Linked DNA regions of Homo sapiens: region 2 is linked to region 1. Evidence: fine-mapped expression QTL. A gene starts in region 1. The other region holds a variant in brackets. All regions are shown on one strand. Distances are from middle to middle. Region 1 holds the start of ZBTB33 (zinc finger and BTB domain containing 33). Region 2 overlaps TMEM255A (transmembrane protein 255A).

Evidence for each region. PIP is the estimated chance that this variant, and not a neighbour inherited with it, causes the effect.
Region 2: its variant is fine-mapped to the expression of ZBTB33 in whole blood (TOPMed, PIP above 0.99). The same link has a PIP of 0.9 or more in T cells and blood mononuclear cells.

What each region holds. Positions count from the first base shown.
Region 1 is chrX:120,248,822-120,253,220 of GRCh38, reverse strand. It overlaps ZBTB33 (zinc finger and BTB domain containing 33), which reads right to left and starts at 2,409. Exons shown (of 3, transcript NM_001184742.2): 1 at 2,244-2,409; 2 at 451-552. It also overlaps a transcript of TMEM255A not described here. RefSeq lists an enhancer at 1,864-2,702.
Region 2 is chrX:120,299,910-120,304,308 of GRCh38, reverse strand. The region is part of intron 2 of TMEM255A (transmembrane protein 255A); the gene reads left to right. Among named protein-coding and RNA genes, the nearest start is that of TMEM255A, 9.4 kb to the left of the region's middle. The variant C/T (reference allele first, on the strand shown) is at 1,697.

The sequences.
Region 1 (4,399 bases):
CTCCTGAGTTGAGCAAGTTTTACATTGTTACAGAGATTTGAACAGTAATCTCCATAGTCACCTTTTTTTGAATATTAGATACATGCACCTCCACTAAGTGATTTTTAAAGATTAGAATTAATTTTCTTAGTCCCAATTTTGGGTTTTCTCTCCAAGAAGAGGTAAGAGTTGACTTTTAACTGTCAAAATTAAGGAAAATCATCATGAACACACAGAAGTTATTTCGCCTGTAAATGATTGAAATGTCAGAAAAGCTCAGCGCGTGCAATACTGTGTCTGAAATACATACTCTTAATTTTAACTAATCTTTAAGAATATATGCAGAATCTACACCCTGGAGCCAATGACATTTATAAACACTGACAATTATTACCTCCCAACGTCCCATTATTTTTCTGTTATTTAAATTGGGGTGCCTCATCTTGATAAACTATTAAACATCTTTCTTACCCTTTCCTCTTTCTTCATCCCCTTGTCCCTTCCCCTCATCTCTCCATCTTTACAATTTCCAGAGGTGGAATGTTAAACAGTGCCAAGTGAAGTCAACAGACACTATCATGAAAAAATATGACAAAGGAAAAGGAAAGTTTACCATTTCTAAATGCCCACTTCCAAGAAAACACGAAACATTTTATTTTTGTTGGTAAAGAATCATATGCATTGGTATGAGAATTTTTTCCACACCAAATGAGTTAGTGAAAATGAAAACATTAACTTATTGGAATAGACTACTCTAGAAAAAGGGGATGATGTCAGTAGAATGCATTGTTGTGTAGCACTAGCAAAACATCATTTTTTGCACTTTGCAGAAGATATTTCCAGTAACAAAGAGGCCAGAGTTTAAAAAAACCCATATATTAAAAATATATAATATCCATACATATTATATATGGATATATTTTAATATATGGATATTATATATTAACAATTAGTTGACAAGTACTTTTAGTGAAGAAATATTTTTATTAATATTCTCTCCCTTTGAAGTTACCAAAAGGGTGTCGATGTCACAATGCTTAAGTTATATACAGGTGGAGGGCAGTTCTGTCTCAAATACCTTCTAAATTTTTCAAAATGATACCTTAAGAACAAACAGCAGGCAAAAAGTCTAAAAATCAAGATTTAAAACATTATTAGAAGGTGTTGCATGTTAACAGTACCAAGGAATTCCAGGTTACCATAAAGGCATTCATCATCAGAAAGGGTGACCTTTGGACAGTTTGCCAAAAACCAGGGCTTCCGAAATACGGGCATTTCGACAGAAGTCGATATTAAGTGGAAAGACAGGTTTTCTGAAAACGGCACGCAATTTTTGTCATTTGCTCCCGGGTTCTTCCAATATGGGAATGCGTCAAATGTACGTGTCCAGGTGACACTGGGACTCGGTTTCGTTTCGTTTATGTGTCCCCCTCCTCCCACTCAGGGTGGCCCCAGAGACAGCACAAGTCGGTCTGAACCCACTCCGAAGATATGCGATTCGACTGTGGAAAAGCCATTCCACATCACTGTGAAACCCTTGACCGAGGGCCAGTTCGGAGGAGCTGGTGACGGTGGAAAGAGATAAAAGCCATCCGCGAGGGAGTGAAACAAACCGACACGCGGCTCCCTGCGGCAGCTGAACCTCATCTCCCTTCCTCCACCTCCCTCTTCCCCATATGGACCCTGCCAGCTGCAACCGAGGTTTTTAACCCCAATTCACGTGCAAAGCAAGCTTCTTGCAAATACAGACGGAGGTACAAACAGCAGAGTGAGGGCGGGAGGAATATGGGGTACCAGGGAAAGTAGAAGGTGGCGAACGGCAGGGTGGGGTGTTGGGGGGGGGATGAAGCGAAGCAGGCGGCATTGTTGTGCCCCGGGAAGGGGACGGAAGGGGAGGATGGGCCTGGCAGAAAAGCTCTAAATCAAAGTAGGGGCTAGGGGAGTAAAAGAGGCACAAAAAAGCAGCGAGAGGGGCGAGGGAAAAGCCAAGTGGGTCTCTGTGATGGATTCCCCAAGCCCCGGGGCCTACCCAGGGCACCGGCAGCCCCTCGGCCCCTAACGGCGAAGGGGACCGCGCCGCGGCCCTCGCGGCTCGTCCCCTCCTTCGCTCCCCGGCCCACACAAAGAAAGAGCCGGAGGAGCTGAGCCTCCGACTCTGCCGCTTCCTGGTTCAAGTGAGGCGAATGCAAACGCAGGCGCGGCCCAGGGACGGAGAAGGCAAGCGCGCTCCTTCGCCCCCTCCCTGATTGGGGCCGGGTCCTCACCTGCTTCCCGGCGCCGCCGCTTCTCCTCCTCCGGACGCGCGGAAGGCTGGGAGTCCCCCAACAAGAAGAAGCCGCACTCCCCAGCGATTCTGCCCCTTCTTTAAACGTCGCTCCAGTCTGGGTCGACGTCGACGCGGCCGCCGCCTCCTGCCGCCAACGCTGCTACAGCTGCCCCACGCCGCCGACAGAGGGCACAGCGCGGGGGCGAAGCGCTGAAGCCAAAGGCGCCCTCCTCTTCCGAGCGCAGGCCGGGGTGGTCCGGAAGGGCCCGAGCTTGAGGCGGCTCCACTTCGGCGCCGTGCTCTGCCTTCGGTTCTTTCCGCAAGGGGGCGGAGGAAGACTGGGAAGCTCTTGTGTGTTCGGCTCTTTCCGGAGGGCTAACGGGTGGGAAAAAAGGAAAGGGAAAGATCGGGTAAGACAGTCGCAAGCAATTGGATGGAAGGGAAGCGAGTCGTTTTCATCGAAATTCAATGTGAACTTCTAGGGCATACAAACTTTTAGAGACTATACAGGTTTCATTTATTTTGCAAGTTTGAATCTGCTCTATTAGACTGTTTGCTAGATGATAAACCATCTTGAAATATAATCAAAATACATACAATCAAATAGAAATTCACAACTTCTTATGGTAATTCAAGTTCTGGGATAACAAGAGAGCAACTACATTACAGTAACTACTTTTAAGAAAGAAATTTAGTGTTTGGACAACTATCTTCTTAATTGAATACTAAATGGTGCAGTACTATGTTAATTCCCTCATTCCAACTAGCATTTACTGACCCCCTGCTTGATCTGTAGCAAAAACCCTATGTTAGGCTCTCGGGAATACAAAAATGAATAACCCAAAGGTCTCTACCTCTTTAGGGAGCTCAGTAGGTAGGTACACAAACATGGACAAAAATATTTGTACAAGGTGTAGAAGCAGAGAGAAGAGAATAGCAAATTGAATGCTGTCATTTGACCTGTATCTTGAAAGATTAATAATATTAACACTTGCATTTTTAATTTTTTATTGTTACTATTTTAATTTTTTATTATTACTATTTCCATAACATTTCATCTTCAGAGGGCTTTAGTGTCTGACACATAGTATGTGTTCAGTGATTGTTTAATGACCGAAAAAATACATTGTGAGTTACATAATTTTTTAAAATCCTCTGGTAATACCCTTCCAACTGAGTACCATAATAAATGAAGCAACAGGATGGGTGTTTGGAGAGCAAAATGTTTCCCTTTTAGGCTGGTTATTGATCGTATTCAACTAAGGAACCAAATAGTAACTTTTTTTCTGCCATAATTAAGGCCATTCACTACCTTCATTATCTTTTTAAAAAGATATATATAGGATAATACTGCATTCATTTCCAAAATCTTAAATTTGTACCTATTAATACCTTGCAGTGGAATTCCTGTGCTTCTTTCCTAAAAAATCTTGCTGAAAATGTCCATCAGGATATTAGACTGAAAACAGATGTAACTATATCTAATTTTCTCTGACAGGAAATCAGACATGGATGTCATCATCTCATCTACCTATCCCTAATCTATTCTTCATCCTCCTCAATAAAGTAAAGCCACATGGTATAATAAAACATCAAAGTGGTATAATATAGCTGTATTTCACATGGAAATATGCAATTCCTTAAGCTCTTCTCCAAGATTTTGTATTGTGGGAAAACAAACTATGTGGGAATTATTGCATTATTGATTTTTGATTAGGACTTAGCATTATGAAAAGTTTCATTGTTTACTATAAAGATATTTCATGGCAAATAGAAGTATGCTGTTGTAAAATAAACTAAGGCAGATTAGTATTTTTCCTGGCAACTGAGTACTTAATAACCATTTTTCTGAGTTATCCTCCCCAAAACTTAGTAGTAAAAAAAAAAATCTTAGTAATTAGAACAAAGTATATCTTGAAAGTTTAGGATCTATTTATCTTTCAGTGGCTTAATTGATGAAAACTAAAATGAGACATATCTTTGAAATACAGATCACAGTGGCAATAGATGCCACTCTAGATATCATGTTTGTTGGTCAGCTCTCAGTAAACTGGAAGGCACAATGCAATTTATTTTGTACCAGCATTTACATCACTGAGGCTGGCAACAGAATTGCCATGCCATTGTCACTTTCCTGAAAGTATTTTAAAAGTT
Region 2 (4,399 bases), 51 kb before region 1:
TCTACAGAAATTCTGGCTCTGCTCTGATAGTTTTCAATTCTGTTTGAGTGTCTAGTGTTTGCTCAGATTTCCTCCTTTGTATCTCTGTATATTTATGTGGAGAGGCAACTCTGGGCCCGCTAAGAAGAGCACTGGACTGAGAATCAGAAGAATCCAGCACCATCCCTATCTAACAGTGTGATCCTGAGCAAGTCATCTCACTCTTTAATACCTCAGGTTTCTGGTTTAGGAGATGTTACCAGCAGTGTTAACCTTAGGCTAAGGTCCTTTCTCTCCGGGCATCTGCATTCCCATATATAATAGAGGTCATCTGATCTCACCTGAAATCTGAGGATCCTGGCAGCTTGACACTCTGACCAACAGCACTGATCTCCAAAGTGATCCTGCACTCCTATCAGAAAAAGCTGTGGAAGATATGTTCCTAAAATATGTATATTTATTCACTTATAAATTATATATATACATGTTCATAAAACTTATATAAAAATGAACATTCAAAAATTAGATAAAAATAAGTATACAATAACTTTTAATATCTTCATGTGAACACAAACTAAAATGTCACCAGATAATATGCACTTAGTGTGAAGCTTGTCATTAAAGACAGTGGCTTTAAATCCTTATTTCAAATGGCCCACTAGATAATTGTGAATATTTTTGGCTGCCTTCTTATCCCATATGATTAGACTGTCATTGGAGTCATGTTTTTAAATGTCAATATCACAATTTGGCTGCCAAAAATCTACCCTGGGAGTTAGAAGTATTAAACTCTGCCATTTTCTTGTTGCTTACGTTTGCTTACATTATTAGGGTCATCTTCAACTTCTGGTTTCTCAAGAGGAATCTTTTCAAGCCTCTTATCCATTTTGTTGAGACTAGTTTCGTTAAAATTGGATAATACAATCCAGGCACACATAAAATGCCCCACCATCAACCGTTTGTTGCTTGGAACTTGCCCTCCTCCAGAAGGATAGTTCACCTGATCACCTGACATTCACACGGACAGAGGGTGCCAGTGACAGTCTGTTTATTAAATATTAGTAATGTTTGGTTTCTTATTATTTTAGATAAACAATAAATAGGAAACAGCCGTATTCCAGTGGATTGTTTTATCTACCCTAGGGTGCATGCAGTTCCCTTTGGAGACTGCTAAACTAGTTGCATTAGAAAAACCAAAACCTAATTTGAGTCTACGTACACTGCTGTTGAACCCAAAAACCTAACTCTAGAGGTGAGATCATATTTTAAACACCAATTAAATGGCTCCTCAATTGTTAGAGAGCAGAAGGACCTTTAGGACAATTCAGTTAAGAAATATTTTAGTACAGCAAAGAGGTCAGATGTATTTTTTGTTGTTGTTTTGTTTCATTTCTCTTTGAAATGAAATGAGAGAGAGAGAGAGAGGTGGGGATTGGAGAGAGAAGCAAAGCGAGAGGGGAGATTAAAGATGATGCCTTGGACAAGCCAGAGCTATAAGTGACCAAGCCTGGAGCCTGTTGCCTAGGTCACTGATTTCATTCCACAGTCAGCCTCCTCAATAGCTCTTGAGAAGCTGGGACCTAAAGTGGGCTGCAGGCTATGCCTTCCTGGAGCTGAAGGCTGCTGGGGGAAGTGCCTCCACAGCTCCAGGGCAGGCAGGGCTCCTCCCAGCTGAGGGCAGGTGACCCACAGACACTGTTTGGTGCCCTGTGTTAAA[C/T]ATGTGATGTGAGAACTCACCCAGTGCACTTCCTGTGGTGAGGCAAGAAAACCAGTCGTCAGCAGAATTGGGTTTTATTTTTAAACACAAGCAAAGCCGGTGGGGGGTCGGGGGGTGGGTGTGCAGGGAGGAACAGAGGGGGTAAGATAGCATTTCGGTGGCTTGGAAAAGCAATTTATAGGGTCTGCTTGACTTTGTGTATTTCAGGTAGCTGCATTAGTAAAATATTTCTGACTGATGAGCAAATGCTGAAGCCAAGATTTAGAGTCTCTGTGGGTGAGGGGAAGGTATTTTCCATGTTATTTAAGAGTATGAACTCCTATTCATAAACAGTGGCTGTGAACCTTCTCTGTGGAATATCTTACTGTGGGTGGCTAGGTTGGAATACGTTAACAAAGGAAGGAGGGTGCCTGATTGCTGTTATTCAAGTACCTGATGTTCAGCTAGCACTAGAAGTTGAAGCAGTGGGGGCGTGTGTTTGCGTGTGAGTGGTTCACTAAGAGCTAATATGGAAGTGTTAATAGGAAAGCCATCCCTAACGGACACTGTGCCCCCATGATTTAACCTTTAAAAATGTGCTCTCATAGTTCCTGGAGATTGCTTCTTTAAAATGCATTTTAATTACATAAAATAAAGGGGAAAAGACAGCAGATTGAATAGCAGAAAAATCCATTTGAGTTTATAGGTCAGATCACGTTGTAACAAATACAATTACGACTCATACCTCAGAAACAGTAAACGCCTGAGAATCCAGATTTGTCTGGGAATGGGGTACTTTCATTAACTGAATAGCTTGGTTATTAGGGAGTTACTATAGAAACTCCAAACCAGTGGTTTCCCCACTCTGATGTGAATAAGAATGACCTTGTGAACCTGCAAAAAATGCAGATCTCTACTCCCTAGCCCAAGAGATTCTGATTCAGTTGGTCTGCATGGGCCCTGGCAATCTGAATTTTCTTTTCATAAACTAACCTTTGATTGAAAAAGTAATAAATGTTGAATCCACCTGAGGGGAAAGAATCCGTGGGGGGTGGGGGGAGTCTAATTCAGGTGGACTAGCAACCACCTGGAGAATTAACACACAGTAAAATATGCTTAGCAATAAAACCAGAAGGATCATAATGTGTCATCTGGAGATTCTGCACTGTCAAAGTGGTCACTTTAAATATAAATTACTAATGTATAGAACTGTGAAAAAGTTTCAGCTTATTTAGAACTCTGCTGTTTTAGACTCTGATTAAATGTGTTAACAATCCATGAGAATTTAAATTTTCAAAACAGACAAATTAGGGAGAAGTTATTAGATTAAAAGAAGACTTACCATACAAATCATTTAAATATTGTGATCTCAGGTACTTAAAATATAACTCAATTTGCATAATTCTAAGTCACGTGAAGCTTTTTGGGAGCATCTTTATTTTGCCAAATGAGATATCTTTGTACAGTGAGGTGCATTATCATGGCATGTTAGCTACTCTACCTGAGCTAGCATGTGGTATCATCGTTCTAAGAGACATACGCACACATGCCTCTGTAAAGATGTGCTAGTCTGTACAGTCTGAACTGTAAAGTTTTAAAAAAACTAAAACCAGGCTGGGCACGGTGGCACATGCTTGTAATCACAGCACTTAGGGAGGCTGAGGTGGGAGGATAGCTTGAGGCCAGGAGTTCAAGTCCAGCCTGGGCAACGTGGTGAGACGCCATCTCTACAAAAAGTATATATATAAAAAATTAGCCAAGTATGGTGGTGCACGCCTCTGGTCCCAGCTACTCGACAGGATGAGGTAAGAGGATCTCTTGAGCTCAGGAGGTTAAGGCTGCAGTGAACCATGATCACTCACCCCACTGGGCTCCAGCCTGGGCCACAAAGCAAGACTGTCTCAAATAAATAAATAAATAAAATTTAAAAACTAAAAACGGCCAGGTGCGGTGGCTCACACTTGTAATCCCAGCATTTTGAGAGGCTGAAGCAGGCGGATCACTTGAGCCCAGGAGTTTGAGACCAGCCTAGACAACATGACAAAGCCCCATCTCTACAAAAAAAAAAAAAAAAAAAAATTAGCCTGGCCCTGTGGCATGAGCCTGTAGTCCCAGTTACGTGGGAGGCTAAGGTGGAAGGATCGCTTGAGCCTAGGAGATGGAAGTTGCAGTGAGCTGAGATCGCGCCACTTCACTCCAGCCTGGGTGACAGATCGAGGTCCTGTCTCAAAAAAACAAAACAAAACAAAACAGAAACAAAAACCGAACACCAACAAACAAAGACAAACTGGATTAAGAATTTTACTGTCCTCAAATATTCAAGGCATTTTATTTCAGGAGGGTTCAGATGAGCTTTCTACTCTGAAGGCCTAAAAACCCAAGAGCTTCATTTGTTGCCTGAAGCTGAAAGAGACAGGGGAGGGTGATTGCTGCTTCCCGGTACACCTCCTCTTACCTTAGATGCAGGAAAAAGAGGCCTCTAAATGTGTTTCCCAAGCAACCCACAAGATGGAGTTGGTCCCCTGGATAGTGAGACAAGCCTTTCATTCTTGCACCCTCTCCTCAGCTGCTATATTGATACTATTAGGGCGCATACTAGCCTGAGTCTTCTTTCAGGAAAGAGAGCAAGAATTTCTGCCCCCTTTCCCAGGGAGTGGGTAGGAGAGTCAGTTAATTGAAAATCATTTCAGAGTTACTGTGGGATATTAGGAGATGGGGACAACA